Regions from separate parts of the Homo sapiens genome. Here region 1 is linked to region 2. Evidence: fine-mapped expression QTL. A gene starts in region 2. The other region holds a variant in brackets. All regions are shown on one strand. Distances are from middle to middle.

Region 1 (4,383 bases), 55 kb after region 2:
TCCTGAGCTCAAGCAGTCCACCTGCCTCACCCTTCCAAAGTGCTGGGATTACAGGCACGAGCCACTGAGCCTGACAAGTTTGTACTTTTAGCACGTTCCCCTGCCCCTGCCCAGTCCTTCTCACATGGGTGGACCTAGTACCACATTCTGAGAAAGCCTGATTCCAAGGTCCTGTATCAGTCCCTTGGACCTTCTTTGACCCTCTACAAGACCTTTCTTTCCCTCCTTAACCAGAGCAACTCCTGTTTCTATCTGTTACATATGCAGCACAGCCACATCTTGTGTGGATTTGTATTATGTCCATTCAAAAGCATGTGTCAGAAAATACCAGTAAACCTGTATTAAAGTTGGATGTTGAAGTAGTGCTAACCACCCTCAACTCTAACTAAAATATCAACAAGTGGGCTGGGCGTGGTGGCTCACACCTGTAATTGCAGCACTTTGGGAGGCTGAGGTGGGTGGATCACCTGAGGTCGGGAGTTTGAGACCAGCCTGACCAACATGGAGAAACCCCGTCTCTCCTGAAAATGCAAAAATTAGCTGGATGTGGTGGCACATGCCTGTAATCCCAGCTACTCAGGAGGCTGAGGCAGGAGAATCGCTTGAACCCAGGAGGCAGAGGTTGCAGTGAGCCAAGATTGCGCCATTGCATTCTGGGCAACAAGAGCAAAACTCCGTCTCAAAAAAAAAAAAAGAAAGAAAATTAGGTAGATCTAGTGGTGCACACCTGGAATCCCAGCTATCTGGGAGGCTGAGGCATAAGAATTGCTTGAACCTGGAAGGTGGAGGTTGCAGTGAGCTCAGATTGCGCCACTGCACTCCAGCCTGGGTGGCCAAGCCAGACTCTGTCTCAAAAAAAAAAAAAAAAAAAAAAAAAGGTAACTGCTGTGTGTAATGTGATCTCCATTAAATTTGTATCTAAAGAGCGGGTTCTGCGGTAAAGAAAGGATTTGGAAAGCACTGTACTAGAGAGCTCCCTCTGAATAATGTTCCCGGTCTGAGTGCTTGCAGCATTGATCCACAGCGCTGCCCCTAAAGTGTTGGTGTGAAGGTTGTCCCACTCTTCAGGCGGGGCAAAGAGCTTGTCTGAGGGCAATCACAAACCCCCTTCTGTCTTCTAACTTCGGAGGAAGGGCCCCCTTAACCTGGAGCGGTTCCCTTTGATGGGGAGGTGGGTGTTCACCAGAGGTTTTGTTTGAAGAAAAGGTTTTACTGCCATACATGGGTTAGAGTACTTCTGTAGTCCAGAAGTTGTAAATTAGTGGTCTATGCTGTTATTTGGTTCATAATGATGATTTTTTTTTTTTTTCGAGACAGGGTCTTGCTTTGTAGCCCAGATTGGAGTGCAGTGGCACGATCTCAGCTGCCTGCAGCCTTGAACTTCTGGGCTGAAGCAATCCTCTGCCTCAGCCTCCCAAGTAGCTGGAACCACAGGCACACATCACCATGCCTGGCTAATGTTTTGATTTTTTTTTTTTTTTGTAGAAGCGAGGCCTCACCATGTTGCTCAGGCTGGTCTCCAACTCCTGGGCTCAAGCGATCCTCCAACGTCAGCCTCTCAAAGTGCTGGGATTACAGGCATGAACCACCATGCCTGGCCATAGTAATGATTTATGGTTAGAATATTTCTTAAAGGTAATTGAATTAGTTGAAAGCACTTAAATACCAGACAATATCTCACTAAGAGAAAGAAAGAAAAAGGCTAGATTTCTGCTTTCTTTTGAAAAATCAGATTGGCCTTGCTGGGCAGAGTCAGTCAGTCTGAACATCAGTCTTCCTCTTAAAACAAGCCTGAGCTTTCCTGTCTGCCTGCCAGCATGCTGCAGGTCACCCACAGGGCTGAACTGTCCCCCTGTACTGCCCACTCGGCTAACCATTGCCTCCTCCCCTCCTAGGTGTGCTGATGTATCGGGACTACCCCCTGGAACTATTCATGGCCCAGTGCTATGGCAACATCAGTGACTTGGGCAAGGGGCGCCAGATGCCTGTCCACTACGGCTGCAAGGAACGCCACTTCGTCACTATCTCCTCTCCACTGGCCACGCAGAT[C/T]CCTCAGGGTGAGGATGCATGCCCTGTACCTTGCACATGTGCAGACCAATGTCACACCCCTGTCCAGGCCTCAGCTCTTTTGCCTGCCTTCTGGGTGGAATTCTGGGTTGGTGACACCACTAGAGCCCTGGTCTGTGCTCCAGACTTCTTCTTCTTATTTTTTTCTTTTTTGAGACGGAGTCTTGCACTGTTGCCCAGGCTAGAGTGCAGTGGTGCTATCGCAGCTCACTGCAGCCTCCTTCTCCCAGCTTCAAGCAATTCTCCTGCCTCAGCCTCCCGATTAGCTGAGACTACAGGTGTGCACCACCACGCCCAGCTAATTTTTGTATTTTTAATAGAGACAGGGTTTCACCGTGTTGGCCAGGCTGGTCTCAAACTCCCGGCCTCAGGTGATCCACCCGCCTCAGCCTCTCAAAGTGCTGGGATTACAGGCGTTTAAGCCATTGTGCCCAGCCCACTTTTTTTTTTTTTTTTTTTTTTTTTTTTTTTTTGGTCTGAGACGGGGTTTCACTCTCGTCAGCCAGGTTGGAGTGCAATGGTGCAATCTCGGCTCACTGTAACCTCCACCTCCCAGGCTCAAGTGATTCTCCTGCCTTAGCCTCCTGAGTAGCTGGGATTATGGGCATATGCCATTGTGCTTGGCTAAATTTTTGTATTTTTTGTAGAGATAAGGTTTCACCATTTTGGCCAGGCTGGTCTTGAACCTGAGTTCAAGTGATCTGCCCACCTTGGCCTCTCAAAGTGCTGGGATTACAGATGTGAGCCACTGCACCTGGCCTGTGTTCCAGACTTTGAATGCACCTCTTGTCTGGGACCCTTCAGAAGAGGGCTCTGTTGCTGTCCCCACCCCATTCAGGGGCCTGAAGCCTGTGTGACCACACTCTGGATTTCCCAACCACATGCCTACTGCATTTGTCTGCTCACAAACATAGCCAACGTGTGCACCAGGTTCCACTGTGCCAATGCTTCACGTTCATCATCTAATAAGGACCCTCATTGTGGCCATGGGGACAGAGGTTATTATTTGCTCTTGTTCCTGTTTTCAAGAGCAGGATGCCCGTGTTTTGTGTGTGTGTGAGAGACAGCAAGTGAATGGGAAAAAAAAAAGTGCAGGAGCCTGGCCAACATGGCAAAGCCCTGTCCCTACTAAACATACAAAAATTAGCTTGGCATGGTGGTGCACACCTGTAATCCTAGCTACTCAGGAGGCTGAAGCAGGAGGATTGCTTGAACCTGGGAGGCAGAGTTTGCAGTGAGCTGAGATCGTGCCATTGCACTCTAGCCAAAGTGAGATCCTGTCTCAAAAAAAAAAAAAAGGAAATTGAAGTCAAAGAGGGAAGTCACTCGCTAACGGTCATGTGGCACAGAGGGAGAGGAGCAGGGACTCAAGTCATTGACTGTGTACCTCCAGAGCCTGGGTTCTTGGCCCTGACCTTTGTCTGCCTCAGTCCTCAGAGTCAAGTAAGCTTCCCCAAAGCTTACCGTAGGTGCCCTGAAGTCCCTTCCCTTATAAGAGCTTTTTTGGGAAGCAAACCCACTGGGTGCCAGGCCTGCACCCTCATAGTGTGGAGAACAAGGAATCGGAGCCCCTTCCTGTCCTCCGGGGCCTGTAGCCTGATCTAGGGTTGGTCTGGGCCCTGGCTTCTTTGCCCTAGGGCAGCTGAGATGCATGAGTTTGTGTCTCTCCAGGCCTCAGCACTGTGCCCAGCACAGCAGGAGGCTCCACACCCCTTAGCTCATAGTGTTCTTTTGTTGAGGAACAAGAAGCAGTTTGAGCCTCTTAGGTGGGAGGTGGGCAGGGAAGCTTTCTCAGAGGAGGGGGCATTTAGGGGGCATTTGAGCTAAAGGTAATAGGGTTTCCACAAGGCTGGGGCGTGGCCCTAACCTTCCCTCTGGGTCCCTGCTAAGTCACTTCAAATACACGAAGTTCCTGCCATGTGCCGGTGCCACTCCAAGTGCAGGGAACAAAAGCAACGCAAACCTCAGCCCTCCTGGTGCTGCCATTGTGGTGGGGGAGACGGACAGTAACAGAGATGGAGAGGGAACTCCTGGAGTATATGAGGGTGGGGGTCCTGTAGGGAGCAGCCAAGCCAGCCGGGTGTGGTGCACTGTAGGGGTGGCTGGGGTCCGTCACTGGAGTGACACTGAAGTATGGACCAGAGGATGTGAGGGGGGAGCTGTGTGGTGTCTTGAGGCAGGTGTGAGCCTGGCGTGTTTGAGGAGCTGGGAGGAGCCCAGAGGGGCAGGTGTGGAGTGAGCAGGTGTGGAGTGAGCGGGTGTAGGGTGAGCAGGTGTGGGGTGGTTGGAGGTAAAGTCCAGGAGGTGGTGGGTGGG
Region 2 (4,383 bases):
CTACTAAAAATACAAAAATTAGCTGGGTATGGTAGCGGGTGCCTGTAGTCCCAGCCACTCGGGAGGCTGACATAGGAGAATCGCTTGAACCCAGGAGGCAGAGATTGCAGTGAGCCGAGATCGTGCCACTGCACTCTAGCTTGGCTACAGAGTGAGACTCTGTCTCAAAAAAAAAAAAAAAAAAAAAAGGGCCAGGCGCAGTGGCTCACGCCTGTAATCCCAGCACTTTGGGAGGCCGAGATGGGCAGATCACAAGGTCAGGAGATCGAGACCATCCTGGCTAACACAGTGAAACCCCATCTCTACTAAAAATACAAAAAAAAAAAAAATAGCCGGGCATGGTGGCGAGCGCCTGTAGTCCCAGCTATGCAGGAGGCTGAGGCAGGAGAATGGCATGAACCTGGAAGGCTGAGCTAGATTGCACCACTGCACTACAGCCTGGGAAACAGAACGAGTCTCAAAAAAAAAAAAAAAAAAAAAAAAGGGACTAGGACTCAGGCCTGAAGACATGATAATGCCAAATGGCCACATCTGTTTCATAGACATTCATCTGTGCCACGCAACAACATACCCCAGGCTTTACAAACAAGACCCCATCAAAGTCTTGTATAAGCCAGGCAAACACTGAATGAGCACTTCCTATTCCAGCCCTATTCCTATTCTAAGTGCTGTTGATACTCGTTTAGTACTCATGACAACTTCAACAGGTAAATATTTCTATGACTCTCATTGTACAAACAAGGAAGTCGAGGTGAAGAGAAGTGCCCAAGTTCACATAATCAGCCCAAGGGTGCCTTAACAAGCAATAACTGGTTTTGAACCCAGGCAGTCTGTGCTCTTAACCTCAAACCTGTGCTGCTTCTTAGCTACTATTAGCTTCACTTTGAAACAAGGAAACTGAGGCTCAAAGTGGTCGAGTCCAAAGGTCTCCAATTAATAGGTGGGGGAGTTAATATTTAAATGCAGATCTGGCAGCCCATGACCCTAACCATTACACTATACCATGACTCTATAGGGCCTCAGTTGGGGAAGCATGAACAAAATTACTTTCCTGGGACGTGGCGGCTCACGTTTTTAATCCTAGCACTTTGAGAGGCTGAAGTGGGTGGCCTGTTTGAGCGCAGGAGTTCGAGACCAGCCTGGGCAACATAGCGAGACCCTGTCTCTACAAAAAATAAAAAAAATTAGCCAGATTTGGTGGTGCGTGTCTGTAGTCCCAGCTTCTCAGGAGGCTGAGGCGGGAGGATCACTAGAGCCCGAGAGTTCGAGGCTGCACTGAGCTATGATCACACCACCTTACTCCAGCCCGGGCGCAGAGAGAGACCCTGTCTGTATCCCACCCCTCACACACACAAAGATGGGAGCTTGAGACTCATGTGGACAGGGTGTGGGCTGGGCCTGGAGTACTGAGAACTGATGGAAATGAGGTTAAGAGTCTGCGTTAAGGGGTGGAGGAAGGAGCATGTAGCCTCTAGGCTAGGGGTCTTGGTGTGGAAATGAACCAGGCTTGGGGGAATACCTGTGTGAATGCCCCACTTGCAGAAGAGGCTACTTTCCGAGAAACCGCTGGCCCCTATGATCTGCCCGATCACGTGCACCTCAGCCATGGCCCTGGGAGGGGAAAAATATAATCACAACCCTGTGAGGTAAGTGTATTATCTCCATTTGACGGGGGGGAAACTGAGGCCCAGCAAGTAAAGGGTAGTACTAGGATTCCAAGCTAGCTTCGTCACACCCCTGAGGCTGAGGTCTTGACCACAGATCCTAATTGCCAACCCATGAAAGCCTGGAAAAAATGGGGGGACCCTTGTCTGGGGAACCAGCATTTAACTCTGGGAAGTCCAAAATAACCTTTTCGGGTTCAGGTCGGCGGAAAGCCCCGCCCGAAGGGGCTATGGCTCCGCCCACGAGCGCAAAAGACCCGCCTTCCGCGTCACGCCAGCCACCCCGCTTCCCTCCCCCAGCAAGCTCCATAAGGCGCATGCGTTATGAGTTCAGGTCCGACTTAACCCCGCCTCTAAGCGCAGCGCATGCGTCATTCCTACCTTAGCGCACTTAACGGTTAGGAGAGGAGAAAGCGGCAACCGGGGTTGTAGTTCATGGGCTTGACTGCTTCTTTTCTCCGCGGGCGCCGACCAGGCCTGGCTCGCGCCTCTCCCAGGACCCGCCTGGCTGCGAGATATGTAAGCCGCGATACTTCCGCGACCGCGCTCGTCTTGGTTTCCGTGGTTGTTGCTGGGGCAACAGCAGGCTCCTCCCCTAGCTTTGTACTCGCTCTGCGCGCTACTAATTGGTGCTAGCCGTCTGCGGGGGGCGGGGTGAAGCTGTGATGGACATTTTCCTCCTCCGCTCCATTTTGGGAAAATAGCGTCTCTCCAGCTACGGCAAAGGGTTCCGCCATTTTGGGCGTGGCTAGGAAGCTGCCATGTTGAGTGTGGCTGAGGAAGTTTGAGTGCAGTTTCTCCCAGATACCTTCTTTACCAAAAAAGCAAATCCCTAACTGCTCCGTGCTGCGCCTACCCCACCGAAGAGCTCTCTGTGGTCCGGGATCACAAATCAGAGATTGAACCAGGACCAAGGGGGAATTCCTTCCAGGACCTCGTGTACATCCCCGGCCTTGTAACTGGAAAACAAAGCAAAAAAATCACTCCTCATTCAGAGAGTGGAGAAGTTGGGGAGTGGGTTCTGCTTCCGTTTTAGAGTTCCCCTAGGTTTCTCAAGGACAAGGAAGGAAGGAAGTTGGATAAGTCCAACTTCCTTCTCGGAGCTACTACCAAGTTCACTGTTACTGCTTGATTCTGAGCAAGGAGCGGTTGGGGTAGCGAAGAGAAATGAGGAACTAAGATTCCCTTATTTGCAGAAAATCCTCTTTCCTATTGATTGATTTATCAATCAAGAAATGGAGATGTTGTCCCTGGATGCCATCCTAGATGCCATCATTTCCCACATCAAGCCAGTCATCAGGTCCCATCAAGGCTCCTTAAAAGGGTCTCACTCTGTCACCCAGGCTGGAGTACGGTGGCTCGATCACAGCTCATTGCAGCCTCTTAACTCCTGGGTTCAAGGGATCCTCCTACCTCAGCCTCCCATGTAGCTGGTATCACAGACATGCACCACCACGGCTGGCTAATTCTTTTTTTTTTTTTTAAGAGATGGAGTCCTGCTATGTTGCTATGTTGCCCAGTCTTGTCTTGACCTCCTGGGCTCTAGCTATCCTCCCAGTTCTCCCTCCCAAACTGCCGGGATTACAGGCGTGAGCCACCCAGCCAGGCCAATAGATACAAAGTATTTACAAGCTACCATTGGCTAGGCGCGGTGGCTCATAACTGTAATCCCAGCCCTTTGGAAGGCTGAGGCGGGAAGAGCTCTTGAGGCCAGAAGTTCGAATATAGGGAGACCCCATTAATAATGCATATATCAACTAGTGAAGTATTCCATTGAATTGTTTAATATAAATGTTATCCTATTGAAATGTTGTACCCTCGTTATAATTTTGGTTTTTTACTTTTTGAGATGGCGTCTCCCCCTGTCATCCAGGCTGGAGTGCAGTGGTGCGATCCCAGCTCACTGCAATCTCTGCCTCCCGGGTTCAAGAGATTCTCCTGCCTCAGCCTCCCGAGTAGCTGGGACTACAGGCGTGCACCACCACACCCAGCTAATTTTTGTATTTTTAGTAGAGACGGGTTTTCACCATATTGGCCAGACCGGTCTCAAACTCCTGACCTCAGGTGGTCCACCCGCCTCAGCCTCCCAAAGTGCTGGGATTACAGGCGTTAGCCACCGTGACCGGCCGGGTTTTTTTTTTTTTTTTTTTTTTTGACAGAGTCTCCCTCTGTCGCCCAGGCTGGAGTGCAGTGGCATGATCTCTGCTCACCACAACCTCCGCCTCCCAGGTTCAAGCAATTCTTCTGTCTCAGCCTCCTTAGTAGCTGGGATTGCAGGCACCCACCACTATATCTAGCTAATGTTTGTGCTTTTAGTAGAGATGGAGTTCCACCATGTTGGTCAGGCTGGTCTCGAACTCCTGGCCTCATGTGATCCTTCTGCCTCAGCCTCCCAAAGTGCTGGGATTACAGGCATGAGCCACCTCGCCTGGGCCCAGCTACTTTTTGTATTTTCTTTTTTATTTTATTTATTTACTTTTTTTTTTTTTTTTTTTTGAGACAGAATCTTGCTCTGTTGCCCAGGCTGGAGTGAGCCTCTGCACCTGGCAGAGGTTTCACTTTTAAATGATCTTTCTGTCCTTTAAGCTGGAGCTGGGGAAAATGTATTTATTTATTTATTTATTTCTGGATGCTGTGTGGGTGAGGTAGACAGCTCTAACCTTTCAGCTCTTGGGGCCCCTGGTCCCCTAGTGGTGGCACCAGCCTTGCATTCTCTTTT

Evidence for each region. PIP is the estimated chance that this variant, and not a neighbour inherited with it, causes the effect.
Region 1: its variant is the best candidate, but not a certain one, in a credible set for the expression of B9D2 in whole blood (TOPMed, PIP 0.75).

What each region holds. Positions count from the first base shown.
Region 1 is chr19:41,417,240-41,421,622 of GRCh38, forward strand. It overlaps BCKDHA (branched chain keto acid dehydrogenase E1 subunit alpha), which reads left to right. Exons shown (of 9, transcript NM_000709.4): 5 at 1,896-2,057. Among named protein-coding and RNA genes, the nearest start is that of B3GNT8, 7.9 kb to the right of the region's middle. The variant C/T (reference allele first, on the strand shown) is at 2,050.
Region 2 is chr19:41,361,913-41,366,295 of GRCh38, forward strand. B9D2 (B9 domain containing 2) reads right to left here and starts at 2,237. Exons shown (of 4, transcript NM_030578.4): 1 at 2,046-2,237; 2 at 1,520-1,611. The coding sequence starts at 1,607. It also overlaps a transcript of TMEM91 not described here. RefSeq lists an enhancer at 2,093-2,212.